Regions from separate parts of the Homo sapiens genome. Here region 2 is linked to region 1. The links come from fine-mapping of genetic effects on gene expression. A gene starts in region 1. The other region holds a variant in brackets. All regions are shown on one strand. Distances are from middle to middle.

Region 1 (2,912 bases):
ATGTATAGGCAATATATCTTTTTGATGAAGGAAAGCTAGGATCCAAGAATTTGGAAGATAAAAATGCAGTTTACATTAACAGGACAACAGCAGACATATGTATGGTACAAGGGAATGACCACAACTTATTTTTATCTACAGCCGTCATTTTTCATAAAAGGTACAGCAGCATTAGGTTGTATATAAGCCTTGTTTTTTTTTTTTTTTTTACTTTTACAGCATCAAATCGACTCTAGCACTCTGAAAAATACCAAGCACTTATTTTTACTCCCCAATTTTAGCGACAGATTTACACACTTAACAGTAGATAAATATGGTCTGAAAAAGTCACAAATATCGAACTTCTTAAATAGTTAAGTGTCAAGATGACGTAAAGAGAAAATTTCTCTAGATGCTAACGTAACTATTAGAAATTATGGAAAGAATTATTTATGGAAAGAATTATTGCTTTCTTTCCTTCTTAAATTTAAGACAAAAGCAAATCACAAAGCTAGCAAAAAACCCCCACGAAACACCAAAAACCCAAACCACTTATTTTCTGTGTGTAGATTCATTATTTGTGAAATAAAAAGCCTCATCTTGTAGTAAGAACTCTTCCAAAATAATCTGAAGGCAACTCGAAACAAGGGAATGGTGAGAACAAAGCCTATTTAAGGTACGTCTGAATTAATCTAACTTAGCTGTCAACGTCCTAATGACTGACGCTTCCCAAACCTCCCTTTTCAAAGGGTGACCAGAATTTCCAGGAAATAAGAAAAACTACTCGCAACATTTAACTGGAAAAATCTAACTCCCCAAATCTCAACGCTCCCTTTCTCCAAACACCTCCAACTGATTAAAACCCCCAAATATTAACAACGGCAACAACAACAAAGATAAATGGTAGCAACATTCCTCTCCCTCGATCCCGTTATTTCATCTCACTATTTTTTGGCTGGGGAAAAAAAAAAATCTCTGGGCCAAGGGGGCGTGAACCTCGAAGAATGTGAACTTCAAATCAATGGGGGGCGGCCGTCGGGTCGCGGAAAGGCCGCGGCGGGGGGCTGCTCGCGCCGGCAGGAAGCAGGGAGAAAGGGGCTGCAAACTGCGGAGGGGGAGGGGGACCGAAAAACCCCGCCACGCGGCCCGGCGAAGGCAGAGGCGCCGCCCTCGCTCCCACGCGGCGGCTGAGGCCCGCTGCGCGGCCTAGTTCGGCGCCAAAGCGGGCGCGGGACCCGCCATCTTCACTCCGTCCCCTCCCCCGGCCCAGTGCCGCCACCACCAGGGTCCTCTCCAGGCGCCTGCGGCCTCCCCGCCTAGGCCCGGAGTACCTGCCTTGTACCTACCTGGTGTCGTCGGCCACGTTCCTGACGAACAGAGACGTGTTGGGGGGACGCAGGTAGCGGGACATGGCGGCGGCGTGTCTCGGCCGGGCGCACTAACGGGCTCAGCAAACCGTCCGCGGCTCAGGCGGCCGAGCCTCAGACACACACAGCTAGAGGGCTCTGCTACGGCAACCGACTCTTCTCGCGAGACTTCACTCCCGCCTCCACTTCCCCCTCCTACCTCCGCGCAAAGTCGGGCGCAACGGTTCTTTCCCGCGAGAACACCAGGCGTCCGCCTGCGCATGCGGAGGGCTGGCGCACGCGCCTCAGCGTCGGTGTCATTCGTTGGCTTCTTGCGGTGCCTCTTACCCTCCCCCAAGCCTGTTCTTTCTTTCTTTAGGTCTTCATTTCCCGCCGTTTTCTACCTTACACTCCACTTCATCTCCACCCCCAAATCAGGAAGCAGATGTTTTAGTCTCTAGGCCAAACTTTGCGGTTACTACTAAATGGACAGATTTTTAAACTATTTAGTTCAGAGAGGCTGCCTTAAATTTCCCGGTTGGTCCAAGTTAATGTCCTGCTTTTATTTTGCCTTAAATTTCCCGTTTGGTCCAGGTTATGCCCTGACCTGCGAAAGAAGGATTTACAGCTTGTATTGAGTGTGTAAAGGAAGGAGGTGTGTGCCCTTGCGCAGAGCTGGGCCTGTCTCTCCAGTGTTTTCAGCCTGCCTTTGCCCCTCACCCACACCCTAGCCATCTCCACTTAGTCACGCATTTGGCTCCCAACCTGGGTGGGACCAAACCTCACACTGTAGGTTCATGACTGTGGTCATTTGTAGTGTATTCTTTGTTGCTGACGGCTTCCTGGGTATGCATCGGACCTGTATTGCAGCAGTTCTCAAACTTTTTGGTCTCAGAACGCCTTTATATTCTTGTGTATTACGGAAGATTCCAAAGAGCTTTTTTTAAAAAAAGTGTGGGTTATACCTATTAATAAATAGTTAATGAGAACTTAAAATAGAGGAAACTTCGGCTGGGCTCGGTGGCTCACGCCTGTAATCCCTCCCTGTACTTTGGGAGGCCGAGGCGGGCAGATCACGAGGTCAAGAGTTTGAGACCAGCCTGACCAACACAGTGAAACCCCATCTCTACTAAAAATACAAAAATTAGCCAGGCGTAGTGGCGCGCGCCTGTAATCCCAGCTACTTGGGAGGCTGGGGCAGAAGAATCGCTTGAACTCGGGAGGCAGAGGTTGCAGTGAGCCGAGATTGCACCACTGCATTCCAGCCTGGGCGACAGGGTGAGACTCCGTCTCAAAAAAGAAAAAAAAAAAAAATAGAGAAAACTTTGACACACTCCACTACCCTTTATCACACATCATGTACCCTCTGGAAAACTCCACGTTTGTAAGAGAATGAGCATGAAAATAGCAAATAATCTTTAGTATGGTTTTGATTTTGGAGGCCCTTTTGAGAGCCATTTCCTGCTCGATAAGAGTCAACTTCTGGAGATGAGAGACTTCAGTTGGAATGCCTCCAGCGTGTGGCACAGTGCCAAGCAGGTAGCAGGGACTCAAGTACTGTTAAATTAAATGAACTTTTATTTAATA
Region 2 (2,912 bases), 440 kb before region 1:
TAGTCCTGGAAAAATCCCCAAACTAAAGCAAACTTCCATTCCAGCTGGTGTATCTTCTCCTGAAAAATTCCACAGATTCCCTGTGCTCAAAGTCCTGTTAATCAGAATACAAACTGCTTGACAGACACTTCCTGAAGGTACATATTCCCTGTCCCGGGCTCCTCAGCACATCACCTGTTCACACGAATCCCAAATCACAGAGAAACCAGATCAGAGCTATGGGAAACAAGGGAGAAAAATCCCTGCTCCATCTTCTTTGTGCTTTTCCTATTCTACAATAAACATGTATTACTTTGGTGATTGGAGAAAAAAAAGTTGTTTTTTAAAAAGAGAAACAAGGTATTGCTTTAAGGAAGTTCTGCTAGTGGTAACCTTTTTACTGGAACATTGTTGGAAGATGGGTTCGTGGGCTTTTCTAACAGTGACTGGCATGTAGTAAACACTATATGAATGTTTGTTAAATACATAAAATTCTAGGTGCAGGCCGGGCGCGGTGGCTCACGCCTGTAATCTCAGCACTTTGGGAGGCTGAGGCGGGCGGATCATGAGGTCAGGAGATTGAGACCATCCTGGCTAACACGGTGAAACCCCGTCTCTACTAAAAATACAAAAAATTAGCCGGGCGAGATGGCAGGCGCCTGTAGTCCCAGCTACTCGGGAGGCTGAGGCAGGAGAATGGCGTGAACCCAGGGGCGGAGCCTGCAGTGAGCCGAGATCTCGACACTGCACTCCAGCCTGGGCGACAGTGACTCTGTCTCAAAAAAAAAAAAAAAAAAAAAATCTAGGTGCAGTGGTTCGTGCCTGTAATCCCAACACTTTGGGAGCCCGAGGTGGGTGGATCAGTTGAGGCCAGGAGTTCGACACCAGCCTGGCCAACATGGAAAAACCCTGTCTCTACTGAAAATATAAAAATTAGCTAGGTGTGGTGGTGCACACCTGTAATTCCAGCTACTCGGAAGGCTAAGGCAGGAGAATCGCTTGAACCCAGGAAGCGGAGGTTGCAGTGAGCCAAGATTGCACCACTGCACTCCAGCTTGGGAGACAGAGTGAGAACCCGTCTCAAAAAAATAAAAATAAAGAAAAATAAAGAAAAAAACATAAAATTCTAAATCTTGGCACTCCATAAGCTATGTGCTCTTGGACATATCATTGCATTACTCTGGGCCTCTGTTCCTTCATCTGATAAACAGGGCTAATCACAGCTGTCTCGGGTTTATTGCGTTGAAGTGAATCTGGGATGGGATGTGAATGTG[C/CTG]TGTGTGTGTGTGTGTGTGTGTGTGTGTGTACCAAAATTTATTAAGAAGGCAAACAATTTGGTTGGACAACTCTTCAAAGAAAATATACAGAGGCCAGGCCGGACGCAGTGGCTCACACACTTGTAATCCCAGCACTTTGGGAGCCTGAGGCAGGTGGATCACCTGAGGTCAGGCGTTCGAGACCAGCCTGGCTAACATGGTGAAACCCTGACTCTACTAAAAATACAAAAATTAGCTGGGCGTGATGGCGGGCGCCTGTAGTACCAGCTACTCAGGAGGCTGATGCAGGAGAATCGCTTGAACCCAGGAGGCAAAGGTTGCAGTGGGCCGAGATTGTGCTATTGCACTCCAGCCTGGGAGACAAGAGCCAAAGTCCGTCTCAAAAAAAACAGGAAATATACAGAGGCCAATAAGCACGTGAAAAGATGCTCAACATCATTAGTCATTAGGGAAATGCAAATCAAAACTACAATGAGATGACACTTCACTAACCCACTAGAATGGTTATAATAGAAAAGAGAGACAATAACTAGTGTCGTCCAGGATGTGGAGAACCCTCATACATTGGAACCCTCATTCATTGCTGGTGGGATTGTAAATGGGTATAACTGCTTTGGAAAATAGTTCAGCAGTTTTTAAAAAAGTTATACAGAGTTAACCACATGACTCAGCAATTCTACTCCCATATACCCAAGAGAATTGAAAACATATGTTCACACAAAAATGTGTACACAGATGTTCATAGCAGCATTATCCATAATAACCAGAAAGTAGAAACAACCCAAATGCCCATTAACTGATGATTGGATAAGCAAAATGTGGAGTCCAGGCACAGTGGCACATGCCTGTAATCCCAGCACTTTGGGAGACCAAGGCGGGTGCATCAATTGAGCCCAGAAGTTTGAGACCAGCTTGGGTAGCACAGTGAGACCCCATCTCTACAAAAAAAATACAAAAATCAGCTGGGTGTGGTGGCGTGCACCTGTAGTTCCAGCTACTTGGGAGGCTGAGGTGGGAGAATTGCTTGAACCTGGGAGGCAGAAGTCATGCCACTGCATCCCAGCCTGGATGACAGAGCAAGACCCTGCCTCAAAAAAAAAGTGGTATATTTATATAATAGAATATTATTCAGCCAAAAAAAGGAAAAAAAAATTTTTTTTTTTTTGAGATGGAGTCTCGCTCTGTCATCCAGGCTGGAGTGCAGTGGTGCGATCTCGGCTCACTGCAAGCTCTGCCTCCTGGGTTCACACCATTCTCCCGCCTCAGCCTCCCGAGTAGCTGGGACTACAGGTGCATGCCACCACGCCCGGTGAATTTTTGTATTTTTAGTAGAGACAGGGTTTCACCGTGCTGGCCAGGCTGGCCTCAAACTCCTGACCTCAGGTGATGGTGATCCACCACCTCAGCCTCCCAAAGTGCTGGGATTACAGGTGTGAGCCACCGTGCCCAGCCTTTTTTTTCTTAATAGTGACGGGGGTCTCACTATATCCCGTGGTCTGGTCTTGGACTCCTGGGCTCAAGTAATCCTCCTGCCTCGGCTCCCAAAGTGTTGGGATTATAGGCATGAGCCACCACGCCTGGCCCCATAAAAAGGAATGAGGTACTGATACATGCTATGACATGGAAGACTCTTCAAGACATTATGCTAAGTGAAAGAA

Direction of the effects. Positions count from the first base shown, and alleles are read on the strand shown. Sizes are in standard deviations (SD) of each study's normalised expression.
For the expression in skeletal muscle of the gene that starts at base 1,462 in region 1, C is the low allele of the variant in region 2 and CTG is the other (moderate effect, 0.73 SD a copy in FUSION).

The links. PIP is the estimated chance that this variant, and not a neighbour inherited with it, causes the effect.
Region 2: its variant is fine-mapped to the expression of SRSF10 in skeletal muscle (FUSION, PIP 0.95).

What each region holds. Positions count from the first base shown.
Region 1 is chr1:23,978,866-23,981,777 of GRCh38, forward strand. It overlaps SRSF10 (serine and arginine rich splicing factor 10), which reads right to left and starts at 1,462. Exons shown (of 6, transcript NM_054016.4): 1 at 1,326-1,462. The coding sequence starts at 1,390. RefSeq lists enhancers at 689-1,679, 917-966, 1,397-1,726, 1,680-2,670, 1,737-1,786.
Region 2 is chr1:23,535,820-23,538,731 of GRCh38, forward strand. No RefSeq gene overlaps it. Among named protein-coding and RNA genes, the nearest start is that of E2F2, 6.0 kb to the left of the region's middle. The variant C/CTG (reference allele first, on the strand shown) is at 1,254.